Linked DNA regions of Homo sapiens. The protein of the gene in region 2 purifies or fractionates together with the protein of the main gene of each other region. This does not show direct contact. Each region holds a gene or a part of one and is shown on either strand. Other genes may lie near its edges.

Evidence for each region.
Region 1: the proteins of FBXW8 (region 2) and ATAD3A purify together in Homo sapiens (affinity purification with mass spectrometry, with the first as the bait; one large-scale study listed by BioGRID). This does not show direct contact.
Region 3: the proteins of FBXW8 (region 2) and PPP2R2A purify together in Homo sapiens (affinity purification with mass spectrometry, with the first as the bait; one large-scale study listed by BioGRID). This does not show direct contact.
Region 4: the proteins of FBXW8 (region 2) and MAGEA10 purify together in Homo sapiens (affinity purification with mass spectrometry, with the first as the bait; one large-scale study listed by BioGRID). This does not show direct contact.

The regions. Positions count from the first base shown.
Region 1 is NC_000001.11:1,518,662-1,522,161, reverse strand, and holds part of ATAD3A (ATPase family AAA domain-containing protein 3A), read right to left. Parts: intron 3,242-3,500; coding exon 3,172-3,241; intron 2,022-3,171; coding exon 1,856-2,021; intron 1,615-1,855; coding exon 1,545-1,614; intron 1-1,544. UniProt on the Homo sapiens protein: Essential for mitochondrial network organization, mitochondrial metabolism and cell growth at organism and cellular level. May play an important role in mitochondrial protein synthesis. May also participate in mitochondrial DNA replication.
Region 2 is NC_000012.12:117,018,950-117,022,449, reverse strand, and holds part of FBXW8 (F-box/WD repeat-containing protein 8), read right to left. Parts: intron 1-3,500. UniProt on the Homo sapiens protein: Substrate-recognition component of the Cul7-RING(FBXW8) ubiquitin ligase complex, which mediates the ubiquitination and subsequent proteasomal degradation of target proteins.
Region 3 is NC_000008.11:26,298,008-26,301,507, forward strand, and holds part of PPP2R2A (serine/threonine-protein phosphatase 2A 55 kDa regulatory subunit B alpha isoform), read left to right. Parts: intron 1-3,500. UniProt on the Homo sapiens protein: Substrate-recognition subunit of protein phosphatase 2A (PP2A) that plays a key role in cell cycle by controlling mitosis entry and exit. Involved in chromosome clustering during late mitosis by mediating dephosphorylation of MKI67.
Region 4 is NC_000023.11:152,135,778-152,139,993, forward strand, and holds the start of MAGEA10 (melanoma-associated antigen 10), read right to left. Parts: upstream 2,801-4,216; 5' UTR 2,698-2,800; intron 1,193-2,697; 5' UTR 1,094-1,192; intron 304-1,093; exon of another isoform or gene 213-303; intron 58-212; 5' UTR 1-57. UniProt on the Homo sapiens protein: Not known, though may play a role in embryonal development and tumor transformation or aspects of tumor progression.

The DNA.
Region 1 (3,500 bases), on a different chromosome or scaffold from region 2:
AGGCTGAGGCAGGAGAATCTCTTGAACCCGGAAGGCAAAGGTTGCAATGAGCTGGACCCGCGCCACTACACTCCAGCCTATGCAACAAGAGCAAAACTCTGTCTCAAAAAACAAACAAACAAAAAATGAATTAGGCCAGGCCCGGTGGCTCACCCGTGTAATCCCAGCACTTTGGGAGGCCAAGACGGCTGGATCACTTAAGGTCAGAAGTTCGTGACCAGCCTGGCCAACATGGTGAAAACCCATCTCTACTAAAAATACAAAAATTGGCCGGGCCTGGTGGCACAGGCCTATATTAGCTGAGTGTGGTGACGTGAGCCTGTAATCCCAGTCACTTGGGAGGCTGAGGCAGGAGAACTGCTTGAACTGGGGAGGTGGAGGTTGCAGTGAGCCGAGATGGCACCATTGCACTCCAGTCTGACCACAGAGCAAGACCCTGTCTCTAAAAACAAACAAACAAAAGTCATCGGCGCATTAAGCAGCTCCGTCATGTCCTCACGTGACACGGTCTCACCAACATGGTGGCAACACCACCTGCAACATTCACCGTCACACTGACCAGGCCACCGGCAGGCGCTGCAGTCACAGCTCTGGGCGCCGGCACCACGGCAGAGCAAGTGCCCACTCAGTGCCGGGCACCTACCGTGTGCTGGGCGGGGTGGGGACGGAGGACACAGCCATGTGGGACGTGGGGCGCCACCACAGCAGGCCGGAGGCTGGGCACAAAAGAGTGAGGCTTTAAACGAGAGAAGAATCTGTGAACTTCAAACTCTCAGGGTTTTATAAGGAATAAAGAAGGTTTTTGCAAAATGGAGTCAGGGTTGCCTTCTGGTTTTTTTTTTTTTTTTTTTTTTTTTTTTTTTGAGAAGAAGCCTCACTATGTGGCCCAGGCTGGAGTGCAGTAGCGTGATCTCGACTCACTGCAAGCTCCGCCTCCCGGGTTCAGGTGATTCTCCTGCCTCAGCCTCTTGAGTAGCTGGGACTATAGGCGCCCGCCACTGCGCCCGGCTAATTTTTTGTATTTTTTTAGTAGAGACGGGGTTTCACCGTGTTAGCCAGGATGGTCTCGATCCCGATATCGTGATCCGCCCGCCTCTGCCTCTGCCTCCCAAAGTGCTGGGATTACAGGTGTGAGCCACGACTATCGACAATTTTTTTCTTGAGACAAGGACTTTGTCGCCCAGGATGGAGTGCAGTGCTGCGATCTCAGCTCAGTGCAGCTGCAACCTCCCTGGGCTTAAGTGATCCTCCTACCTCAGCCTCTTGAGTAGTGGGACCACAGGGGCTGCCACCACACCCAGCTAATATTTGATTTTTTGTAGAGATGGGGTCTCACTGTGTGGCCCAGGCTGGCAACTGCGTTTTCTTCTCCCAGCTTGAGAAGGGAGGAGAAGCCGAGGCCAGCAGGTACAACGTGGGCTTCCTCCCTGCTGGGAGAGCTACAGGGCTGTGCAGAGCCGGCAGGGACAGGACCTGGGGCTCCAGGAGGCCCCCACATGCTGCCCCTCAGCCACCTGCCAGCCCTGTTTTATGAGTATGTTTACCGTGGCTGTCACTTTGTCCCAGTCTGTCACAAAGGCACGGAATCCTTCCCCAAACAAGGTGCCAGCCGTCCTGCGGGGAAAGCAGTGGTGTGACCAGGAAGGACACGAAGATCCGTGCCACGCAGCGAGAGCAGGTTGAGGGTGAGGCCCTGACATGGCGGCACGGCCTTGCCAGGACAGAGGGGCAGTGCCCCCACCAAGGAGTCAGCCTACGGCGGCAAGGCCTGGAAGAGCTGGAGAGCGCCCTGGGACCAGCGACTCACACCTGCGGGGCTCCATCTGTGGCCGGCCCGGGCCTCGGCAGTGCTCACCTGATGGACTCCAAGACGGTCTGACGGTGCTCGGCCGCCTTCAGGCGGATCTGCTCGCGGATGATGTCTGCATTCTCCCGCTCGGCCTTGGCGCGCGCCCGGGCCTCGGCCTCCACTCGCAGCATCTCATTCTTGTGCCGCAGCTCCATCTCCCGCTCCACGGTGGCTGCCCCAGAGAGGCAGGGCAGCTCAGCACCATGCAGTGCAGCGCGTCCACCTCCACCCACACTGTGGACCGGCCCACGCCACGGACCGGCCCACGCCACGGACAGACCAACGCCACAGACAGGCCCATGCCACGGACCGGCCCACGCCATGGACAGGCCCACACTGCTGACAGGCTAAGGCCACGGACAGGCCCACGCCACAGACAGGCCCACGCCGCCAATAGGCTAAGGCCACGGACAGGTCCATGCCACAGACACACACAGACCTTGGTAGGGACAGCGCCACAGGCCGGCCCTGCCCATGGATTAGGGCAGAAATCCGACCCAGAGGCCTAGGCAACTTCTCAGGACGAGCTCTTTGAAGCAAAAAACCAGAACGCGGAGTTCTGAAGGAAGCCCCCCTCACACAGAAACACAGCTGTCAGAACTCAGACACGCGTGACGTGCCACGTGCCTGGCTACTGAACATTAAACGCACACACCTCGCCACAAGCCCACCCACGGTGAAGAGTGGTGACAGACGTTTGCCTGGAGCACTCGCCAACAAATGCCACATGGCACCAAATACCTGTGATCCCCACTGAAACCAGGACAGTAAAGACCCATGTTCTAGGCAGAACGCAGAGGCTCACGCCTGTAATCCCAGCACTGTGGAAGGCCAAGGCAGGCGGATAATGAGATCAAGAAGTTCAAGACCAGCCTGGCCAACACAGTGAAACCCTTTCTCTACTGAAGATACAAAAAAATTAGCTGGGCGTGGTGGCGGGAGCCTATAATCCCAGCTACTCGGGAGGCTGAGGCAGGAGAATTGCTTAAACCTGGGAGGCAGAGGTTGCAGTGAGCTGAGATCGTGCTATTGCACTCCTGCCTGGGTGACAGAGCGAGACTCCGTCTCAAAAAAAAAAAAAAGGCCCCTGTACTTCCCATGAAGTGAAGCAGCTCCTGCCCTCCCTGAACAGATCCTGGCGTCCACTCGCAGACAGAGGTGTCTTCCGAGAGGCAGCCCCACCCCGCGGAGCCCCAGCAGGCCTCGCCCACTGCACTGGTAGCTATGAGGGGCCGGGCGGCAGAACTCAGGCTCAGAGTGCACGCCGGGTCCACAAGCAGCCCCCGCCACCTCCGCCCCAGCCAGGAGAGCAGACAGCCTACCTCGCCGCATGGCTTCCTGCTTCTGCACGGACTCCTCCTGCTTCCGTAAATTCTCCTCATTGAGAAGTTGCTGAGAAGAAGCCGCAGAAAAAGAGAAAAGCCTTTAAAACCTGTGACTGTGCCCATGTGTGCGGGGGATGACTGTGCCCGAGTGTGCAGGGGGGTGAGTGTGCCCGTTTGCGGGGTGTGACGGTGCCCGTTTGCGGGGGGTGACGGTGCCCGAATGTGCAGGCGGGTGACTGTGCCCATGTGTGTGGGGGTGATTGTGCCCATGTGTGGGTGGGTTGTGCACCCGTTTGGGTGTGTGTGTGTGTGTGTGTGTGTACCCG
Region 2 (3,500 bases):
ACTCCTGGGCCAAGGGATCTACCCACCTCAGCCTCCTAAAGTGCCGGGATTACAGGCATGTGCCATTGCACCCAGCCTGTTTTTTTTTTTTTTTAATAGTTTCTTTAGTCACTATAATCTATTCAGAAATTATTTCTATTTCTTGAATTTTTAAAATCTCCAAATCTGAAAACTTAGATGAGTAAATGGCTTTCTGGGAAAATAAGAATTATCAAAACGAATCCCCAGGAGACAGAAAATCCAAGTAGATAAAATAACAAATAGCAGCCTGAGGAAGCCAGCAAGGGGCAACAATCCCTGCAAAAAAAGAACAAGTGACTTTGGCCAGACCTGTTAAGGACCAGCTGCCTCCAGGGCTAAGTTAACTGTTCCACAGCCTAGGAAAAGGAGGAAAGCTTCCAAATTCTCCATGAAGCCAGCATTCTATTACCAAAGCCTAACCCTGAGAGCATGATCAAAGAAAACTACATATCCGAGTGAAACATCAGGAACAGACTCCACAGCAAGATGCCACAGACAAGGGGAATCAACGAAAAACCAGGCAGTCACGTCCATGGAAGCCGAAAGCAACGGGATGAAACGTCACAGCCATTCCAGATGTGGTCTTTAGAAACAGTGAGGCACTGGCACCACCATTACTTCACATCGCTTTTTAAAAACCAGACACAATTAGACAAAAGGAAAAAATGAAAGGTTAAAAAAAATCGGAAAGAAGTGGGTAGACTTCTTATCAGTGAGAAGGGACAGTCCCAGAGAATTCAGTAACACAGAGTCAAATATAAATTTATATGCTAAAATCTAGTTTAAAAATAAATAGAATCAAAGAAAATGTCCCATTTGTAACAGCAGTTAGAGGCAAAATACTCTATAATAATTTTCTCAACTTGGAGCTCTATCAATCACATATATTACACAAATTACAGAGAGCGCAAAGAGTTAAACATAAACTATAAAACATATTCAAAGGAGGAAGACCTTTCTAAACATAACAAAATATGGAAGGTGAAAAAAGGGTTTAACTTTTTCCTATTGGGGGGAACAATCAGAAAGTCAGTCCAATGATAAACTGAGGAAAATGTTTGCAACAAAAAGGGCTAATGTCTTATAATAAATGCCTTCAAATTAGTAAAGACTGACAACCCATTATTAAATCGACAGAAAAGATAAGAAAAAGCAATTCACAGAAAAATACTAATGGCTTTTAAACATGTGTAAGATGTTTAAGTTTGCTGGTAATCAGATAAATTACACAGTAAAACTACAATGCAATGCCACTTGTCACCAATCTACCCAGCAAAGGTAAAGTTTGGTAACATGCCCTACGAGGCACTGTGTGGCAGGGAGACATGGACAGGTAGGTACTCCTAGACAGCTGAGGCGAGCAGAAATCCTTCTCTGGGGAGTGACTTGGCAATATCCAACCAAATACCACATGCACCTCACTTCTGAGCCGGCAATTCCACTTCGAGGAGGTAGCTACACAAGAGTCCACATACACGCAAGGCCAGTCACTGCTCTTAGTTGCAAAAGAGGCTTCTGTTTCAGACAACATGTTGACAGTTCCACTGTAAAACGCTTAAAAATGCTGGATAAAATCCTTTTAAGGGCACTGCTGAGCTCACGTAGGAAGTGACTTCCCCAGGACCTGAGCTGAAAACCAGACAGGAGAGGGTGAGCTGCGACTTCAGGGGAGGGGAGGCTGCTGGCAAGCGCCAGGCTCAGCTCCGTGGTTTCATCAAACACACTGAAGGGCCACCCTAGGCAGGGAGCGGAGTATGGAGACTCCTGCTTTCAATACAAAAGCATGAAAGTATAGTCCCTGAAATTAAATTTGGGAGATAGGCTGGAAGCAGATCAGAGAATGCGTGAATCAGAAGAAAAATGTGAAGAAATTACCAAGAATGGAGCACAAAGAGATAAATATGAAAACTGCGAATGGGGGTATAAGAGACATGAGGGACAGAAGGGGTGGTGCACCACACGCCCCAAGTTCCGGAAGGAGAAAAACAGAGTGCGGACAGCTAACAGCTGATGTTTCCCGAACTGATGAAAGACATGCATGCCGACTCAATGCACACGAATCAAACACAAAATACATATCTAAGAGTATAATTTAAAAAATGGGGAAACACAAAGACCAAGAGGTCCTAAAAGCAGCCTGAGAGAAAAAGACATTACCTATTAAGGAAAGATAATTAGACTGACAGGAAAAATCAGACACATTTTAGCTGTCATGAACTGGAATGACGTAGGTGACACGATTAACTAGCTCTTCAACTGAGTGCTAGTTAAAGCAATTATGGTACATCCATACAGTGGGACCCGGGGCAGAACTACACAGGCTGACTGGCAGCCGTGCGCACAGGTGTGTGCTGGGGGACATGCATTTAGGCTGTGCGTGTGTGGGCGGCCCCCAGAGAACGCTCAGCATTTAAGCAGTCGCAATGAGGGAGGCTGACAAGGCTGCTGGGAAGAGGGGTGCGCTTCGCCCTCTAGGCTACTCTGCTTTTGAGGCCCATTTTGAATGTGCGTACTTCCTGTTTAAATAAAACCAAACAATTTTAAAGATCAAATTCTGGAAGCACGTACTTGAAACATTAACAACAATTACCTTGGAGAAGAAAGAGGGCAATAAAGGCGGCTTTTGTGTTTTATTCTGGACGCTGCCATGTTTAAAAAACAAGAATTCATTCATGACCGGGAGGCCTTCAACAGTCACACTCTCTTTCTTGAGCTGAGAGGTGGATGCGCGGGCATTCTCGGTTACTCTTGAAACTGTATGCGCACCTTATATACACTCCCATACATATGTTCGGTTTCATAATTAAAAAATAATACTTTCATCTATTTCTTAGAAAAGGTGAAATAAAACAGGATGGAACAACACGTCGTTTTAGGACACAGAGGAGAGACTGTTTCTTCTTCCTGCTAGGCCATGTAACTGACAAGGCAACCCAAGTGAATAGATATACTCAACGCTGGGAAACAGGTAGCACAGCAAATGGGCACCAGAATATGCCAAGACAACCGATTCCAGGGACAAGTTGAGAGTTCTCTGTATAGAGAACATAAAATTCTATGTGGCCAACATTAACAAGCCCTTCGGACTGGCCACTGAACCTTTCTGGACCAGCATTAGATGGTCTTGAAGAGGTCTGCTAGATCCAAAATTCTGAGATCCATAACAAGTCCATCCAGTGGACACAGATGATAATGTATAGATGATACATAATAGGTCCGTTGCTACAAATGCTGCTCAGTCCCTGACTTGCCAGTGAGGGATCTGGGAGCAGAAAGATGCAGAGAGAGCTTGAAGATGACTTTGTAAACAAAGGTCTCTCTCTGTCACGTTTACAGACACCTATCCTTAGGCATGCGTAGGTAAGAGAAGAGAAAAAGTATAAATGCTGTAAAGAGAACTCTAACCTTAGTCCATAATGGGAACTTGAAAAGGATTGGGGAAAGGGGGAGCGGAAGTGTTTACCAAGTACTTTTCAGTG
Region 3 (3,500 bases), on a different chromosome or scaffold from region 2:
TGAAGTAAAAGGAAAAAAACATACTGTAAAAAGTACTATAAAAGTCAGTATAGTGGCTACCCTTAAGCTGTTGGAAAGGAGTTGTGATCGGGAAGGGCTGGGGAGGCCCTTGTGGGCTATCTTGACTGGGATGGTGGTTGTACAGATGTTTGTAAAGAGTAACCTGGACATTTTTGTTTCAATTTTTGGTTTTCTTTATCTGTTACATTTTACAGTAAGAAGTTTTTGGAAATCTAATAATGTATTAAAGGGTTTAGGATGAAAAATGGCAGTCCCCTACCTCCCCACTCCTTAATCCCTAGTCCATCTCCTAAGAGCAGTTGTTCAACTCTTCCGCTGGGTTCCTTGGTGCTTCATTTCCTTTTTGGGAATAAAATGGTATTTCTATATCTTGTCAATTTTAGTATTTCCAGCTGACTTGCTCCTCTAGTAGATGATAACTAAGCTATTCACATTATCACCCCCATTTCTGTCCCCATTGTGCCCCGATGTTACATCACACACTATGATTAAATTGGACGTCAGTGCTTAAATTGTTATGACCACGCACACATTCTCTGCTGAACCAGTAGTGCTCTGCAGTGTTTATTTCATCCTCAAGGTAATACAGTAATTGCTTGTTTGTTAATTTGACTATTTGGTTTTTTAAAAAACGTAATCAATCTGGAACATTACAGAAAGTATGTGGAATAGTATAATGAACCCCTGTCACCCGGCGTTGTCAATGGCCAGTGTTGCCCCATGTATGGTTCCATCACTGGACCCTTTCCCATCCTTTTGTTATTTAATAATGTAATACTTGTTTTTAAAATCTGAATTTAACAAAATAGAAAGCCAAGTTCATTTCTTAAAGTCGAACAGTAAGAAATTTTTTCTAATGATTTTGATAATGTGTTTAAATTTTACTTGTGGAAATAAATTATTAAAAATTCAAATACATGTGGATAATCTGAAGTGTGTAATAATTGGTCAAAATAATAGAACAGGCCAGGTGCAGTGGCTCACGCCTGTAATCCCAGCACTTTGGGAGGCCAGGCGAGAGGATCTCTTGAATCCAGGAGTCTGAGACCAGCCTGGACAACATAGTGAGACCTTTTCTCTACAAAAATTAAAAATATTAGCAGGGCATGGCAGTGTGCAACTGTAGTCCCAGCTACTAAGGAGGCTGAGACTTGAGCCTGAGAGGTCTGCTACAGTTAGGCTGTGATTGTGCCACTGGTCTCCAGCCTGGACAATAGAGTAAGACTCTGTTTCAAAAAAAAAAAAGGAACAACTTAACCATTCAAGATAGTTATTTTAATTATTTTAATGTAGATTTTTCATTGTTTAGTAATCTTAAAATATCAGATGTTATTAAATATTTAATAATGAACCTCATCTGCATATTTGATAGTCTTAAACTTTCACAGGAAATTATTTTAGGATATTATCTTATAAAGTCTTATTTTATGAAACTTGGATCCAAGTACATTGTGTGTTTTCAACTCTTTGCTTTCTGTTTACTTTTGGTAGGATTTAGCCTTGTGGACTGGGTCTTGAAAAAATATTTTTTAAATGGTAGAGGCTAAAATATGCCCCAAATAAGGACATAAGTAAAAATTTGAAAAACAGTCCATATTATGATATCTCACACAATTTAATGGTTTTAGTCCATTCCATATGTTTAATGCTATAATGTAAACAATTTAAAATCATTTCTCTTCTGCATCTCTTTTTTTTTTTTTTGTTAGAGACAAGGTCTTGCTGTGTTGCCCAGGCCGTCTTCTGTGTTTCTTAGAGTAGTATGCATGTTAGATTTAGGCAGTAAGGTAAGTTAGTAGAAAAAGTAGAACCCTGTTGTTTTGTGGATTTAAAAATAGTGGCACATTAGCTGTATTCCGAAACCTAATGACCTATGGTAAAGGTCTTATTTAATATCCTTACCTTGTATGACATGTGACACTTCTTTTTCTTAACACTAGCATTACTACTGAAGTCTAGTAGACCTCACTCAGTACAGTCACTTAAAGTAGTAGTGTAAGTTTACCCATTAAATACCATGAATGATAGTATCTGTTTAGCATCAAATAGTTTTCTTGCTTTGTTTTAAAATACTAAGTTTTTTCACATTCATTTGACAAAAAATTATGAGAGAGAATGGCCATTGAAAACATATTGCTGACATTTTGTCATGTTATTAAAATAAAACAAAAATTAGCCTTAGGTGTTTCTTAGTACTCTGTAATAGTGAACAAAATATTAAAATCAAGTTCTTGAAAATTGTGGAATAAGCAGAATGATGAGAGGTTGAAGCAAAAATGTATTAAATCAGTGAAGAGGTTACAGTATGTTACGTATTTGCATATAAGTGTTTGCCTAGTTTATCTTAAAGTTGATTGTAGGAAGAAAGGTACGTTTCTTAATGCTGTTAAATAGGAAAACTGAAGGATTGGAAATAGCTAAAAAATTTTAGTTAATATCCTCAACTGTAATCTCGTTGCCCTTTAAGGTGATGATGGAATTTGTAATTAAGTAATCAAGTATCCATAAGGTGCTTCCTCAGCAGACAGAAAGAAAAGTAAAAGCTGGCGGGGCGCGGTGGCTCACGCCTGTAATCCCAGCACTTTGGGAGACGGAGGCAGGCAGATCACGAGGTCAGGAGTTTGAGACCAGCCTGGCCAATATGGTGAAACACTGTCTCTACTAAAAATACAAAAATTAGCCGGGTGTGGTGGTGCGCGCCTGTTGTCCCAGCTACTCAGGCTGAGGCAGAAGAATTGCTTGAACCTGGGAGGTGGAGGTTGCAGTGAGCCGAGATCGTGCCACTGCACTCCAGCCTGGGCAACAGAGCAAGACTCCATCTCAAAAAAGAAAAGAAAAGAAAAAGCCTAGGTGCAAATTAGATTTTCTATAAATAAACTGCTATATAGTCATTGTAAGGAAGGCATGGCATGGCCATCTTGAGTACCTACATTTTTTGAGTGCTTAACTATGTATCAGGCATTGTTTTAGGTCCTTTACATCTATTTATTTACTGTTCTTCACAAATACCCTGTGAAATAAGTAGATACTGGTGGGAAAGTTAATTAACTGTATAATCTTGAGCAGGTGGTGAAGCTGGGATTCTTACCTTAGACCTTTCACTTTTCCTAATATAATTTTATTTCAAAACTTAATCTCCTTTTAGTTCAGGTGAAGGCGTTTGATGTTGAACTGCAACTCCTGTTTATAACAAGGTTTATTTGTAATGCCTAGTAGATACTTTTTATTTTGAAGTAATTAAATATAATTTGGAGATTTGTTGAATTTTCAGCTAATGCCATTCTTTTTTTTTTCCTTTTTCTTTTTTTTGTTTTTTTTTTTTGAGACGGGGTCTTGCTCTGTCATCCTGGCTGGAGTGCAATGGCGTGATCATGGCTCACTGCAGCCTCAACCTCCCAGGCTCAAGCGATCCTCCTGCCCCAGCCTCCTGAGTAGCTGGGACTACAGGCACAGGCCACCACGCCCGGCTAGTTTTTAAA
Region 4 (4,216 bases), on a different chromosome or scaffold from region 2:
GCTGCTCTGTGGTGTCCCACAGCTCTTGACCTCTTGCTCTCCCTGTCCCCTGAGAACCTGAAGAAGGAAGTGAGAGATGGCTCCTCAGGATGCAGCCGGCAGAGGCCAAGGCTCCAGGACTGACAGTAGGGTAGGTGGAGCTGATGCAGTGGGGTCCACTTTGTCCTGGAGCAGGTGGGGCCCTTGGTACACATTCAGGGCATGCACCTCACCTTGACTCCTGGCACTGTCTGGGCCCTTTCTGCTCTGTGACCTGAAAACACTGCCTTAGACCAAGGCCTCACCTCACAGTCCCTGGAGCTCCTGAAAGAGGAATTGAGGGGCCCTCAGGGTTCAGGCTGCAAGCACAGCCCCAGCCTCCCAGTGTTGTCAGGAGGGTGGGCTGGACTCTGTGAGTTCCCCACTACCCTGGGGTGGGGAGCCTCTGTGCTCACGTGGGGCTCTCACCTTTCTCCTGGAAAAGCCTAGACCCTGCTCCTTTGCTGGTCTAAGAAACTCTCAGATCAAAAGCTTACATCCCTGATACGAAATAGAAGACATGAGGGGACCCACATCTGGCCACAACTGCAGAGGTCCTCCCAGAAAAGACAGCAAGAGGTGGCCATATTCAGCTGGGTCCATGTGTACTGGGGTGAGGAGCCTGCTTGGTCCTCTTCTTGATGCCTGATACGACCTGGGACCCTCCCTTTGTTGATCTGAGGCCACTTCCTTAAACCAAGGTCCTACCTCCAGGAGACATGGAAAGAGGAAGTGAGGGGAGTCCATCTACCCCCAGTTCCCCATGAATTCCCGTGGCTGACAGAAGGGGTAGGGTGGGGCTGAGTCCTGTGCGTTTGGAGAATGGTGTCCCCTCAGTCCTCACCTTGACTCCTGGCAGGGTCTGGGACCCTCCCTCTGCTGACCCGAGTGCAGCTCCCTTAGACCAACACCTCTCCCTCCCAGAGACCAGTGATCCTTGTATAAGACAGGGAGACTCAGCGGACAGCCCTGACTGGGTTCTCCAGAGTGACAGTAGGGTCATGGCAGATTTCTGTGGGGACCCCATCTGTGTTATGGGCTGGGGGTACCCTCAGATTTCCCTCAGGTTCCTTACCTGGACTCTTGTCAGATCCTGCGACCCACTGTGTCTGTAGAAAAGAGGGGTTCCCTGTGTTGACTTGAGTCACCCTCTGAGAGCAAGGTTCTCACCTCCCTGAGATTCCAAAACAAAAGTAAGAAGGAGCCACATCCTGTCATCCCTGTGGGGTGTCCAGGGCTGATATCTCCCCTTTACACCAAAACTCCATTTCCCTGAGGGTTCCTCATCTTCCTGCCTGTGGTAAAATTGAGCTTGCCACTTAGTGCCAATCCTGATCAGGTCCCCTCAGAGCTAAGAACAGGGGACAGCCAGACTCTGTGACATCCCTTCTTTCTGGGCTGCAGGTACCTCCAGTCCTCACTAAGGGGGCACCCCTTGGGTCCTGCAGATTCTGGGACTCCTCCCTCTGTTGACCAAGTGTGGAACCCTGTAATAACTTCTTAGCAACCCTCAGACCAAGGTCCTCACCTCCCTGAGACCCGGCAGGCAGAAGTGGGGAGGGGCACCACACGATCACACCTGCATGGGATTCCCAAAGCTGACAGAAGGAGCAGACATTTGGCGGGGGGGGGGGGGGGGGTGGTGGGCAGGGGAGGGGGACAAGACGGGGACTTCCTTTATTTGGGTGTCCTCCAGGTATTCAGATTTACTCCCGACAGGGCCCAGCCCTTTCCCTCCTGCTGAATCGTGTATGGGTCTTGCACGCCAAAGCCACCATCTCCCTGGGATCCCCGGTGAGAAAGTGGGGGCCACTTCTCTTCCTCACCGTCCTGCCTGGGGTTCCAGAGCTGATAAGAGGGACAGATTTCCTAGTTCTGAGATGCGGGGATCTGCTGAGTCCTCCCTCAGGGCTCTGGGACTCCTCCCTCTGCTGACCTGAGGCTCCACTCCTCAGACCATAGCCCTCTCCTCATTGACACCCCAAAGGCACAGCAAAGACACATCACATGGGCCACCGTGCCTGAAACCACCCAGGGCTGAGGTCCCCACTGATCTGGACTCCAAGGTCCCTTGAGTCCTTTCTCTTCTTCCTCCCCTTGACTCTTGGCTGGGTTGTTCTCCTCTACCACGCCCCGCCGCAGACCTGAGTCACCGTCCCTTGGATTCCTCAGGCCGAGTGAAGAGACATCTCGGTCTGAGACAGAGGTGGGGTGGGCACCCTGTCCTGGGATCCCTTCATGCCTCCCTCATTTCCCAGCAGGGCCCGGGCCTTCCCTCTGCTCCCCTGAAGCCGCATTCTTGGTACCAATATCCCCTTCCCTACGTCAGCCTCAGATGCCGACGTCAGAATTTGCGTTCCTGGTCGCCATGACCAGGGCTTCCCAGGGCCGACATCAGGGGCAGAGCCCTCCCTGAGCGTCCCGACATTGATGCTGGCAGAACCTAGGCGCGGCTCCCGCCGAACCAGCCGGGCCCTGGTCACACCAAGCTCTGACTCCCAGAGTCCCCTGCGGCTTAAGCGGCGGGAGAGAGTGGGGGCGGGGGTGGGGGGGGGGTGACAGCCCAGCCTGAGAAGTCTGCCCTCAGGTGGTCCAGAGCTGGCAGCAGAGGCAGCGCTGTATTATTTAGGGCTTTCTATCTGGGTTGGGGGCGTCCTCAGTCCTCCCTCAGCCTCTCACCTTGCCTCCTCACAGAGCCTGGGCCCGCTCTCTTCAGCCGATCTCAAGCCTGTCCCTCAGAACGAGAACCTCGCTTCTCTCTGATCCCCGAGGCGTAAGTTAGTGGCGTCACATCCGGTCCCCGGGGCTTCCCTGGGTTGACAGCAGGGGCGGAGTGGATTCTGCCGGAACTGGGGTGGGAGTTGGGGTGGGAGTGAGGGTGGGAGTCCGGGTGGGGTGGGGTACGGGTGAGGATGGGGTTGGGGCAGGGGTGGTGGTGAAGATGAGTGTGGGGAGGGGCGTGGAGGTGGGAACTGGGATGGGGATCTTGGGGCTGTGGGTCGTGGTGGGGGTGGGGGTGGGGTCTTTCAGTCATCCCTCAGTGTCTCGACCTTGATGCCTGGAAAAGCCTGGACCCCTGTTTTGTGCTGAGGATGTCTTCTCCCCTTAAACCAGGTCTCTTGACTCGGAGTCTTCCAAGGTGGCAGTGAGGGGAGGGTTGTGGTAGGGGTGACAACATTGCCAGGGTCTTCCAGGGCTGACAAGAGGGGCTCAGCTGGATTCTGTGGCCCCTTTGTGAGGGGTGGGTGGACCCTCGGTCCTCACTCAGGAGGGTCTTCCTCCTGGCTTTTGTCTCTTTGATGAAGTGATGGGTGGGAGATGCTCAGTTTCCGTCACCTCTGATCATTTGCCCAGCTGCATCCCTTGCAGAGCATGGGTGCGGTTCCCAGGCCAGATGGTCCCTGGGGAGCTGCAACACCCGTGATTGTAATGACCTATGGGAGAAGACGCACACCTTCCCAACGGGGCTCTTCCCAAGCCACAAGTAGACTTGGCAAACTTTTTGTCCTAAAGGGTATATTTTCTACAAGAAAGAGGCTGAGCATCGGGGTGTGGAGAGGTCCTGCTGTTTTGAGTTTAGCTGATATTTTATAGTCCAATGCAGTGATGTCTGGTTTTCTAACCCTCATTCCTAGTAAAAATATGTGTTTTAAATGTCTGCCAAGTGTATATTGAATACATATATAACATTTCATGAAAGAATACCTACCTTACGCTGTGTGGTTCACTGCTTATTCTATTTCTGGTCTATTCTTTATATTCTATTATAATAATTTTTCTCTTTTTTTCTGAGCAAGAAAATTTAATATAAAGAATTATTAACTTGTAGCAGAGGATCAACTAAGACCAGTCGTCACTGTGGTGGTTTTAGGTGGTTAGCAGCATAGACTCCGGAGTCATACTCCCTCAATCAACCCCGTCTTTCCTGCTGTCCTGATATCACTCCAGAGCTACTGGGCTACTGGCATCGTGGTATGAAGTGTTGCCTCAGATTGTGCAATAAAGCAGGGCCAGAAATTCAAATATTTCTTCCTACTCGTCCTCTTATTTGCCGTCTATGCAGGCTGCGGACCTCCGCAAATGCACTGTTGTCCTCCACTCCCCCTACTCCAAACACAAGGTCCAATTCGAAATTCTGCAGTCTGCTTAGGGTTCTATCATGTTTTGCTGTGTAGAATTTGTTGAGTGTTGATAATGT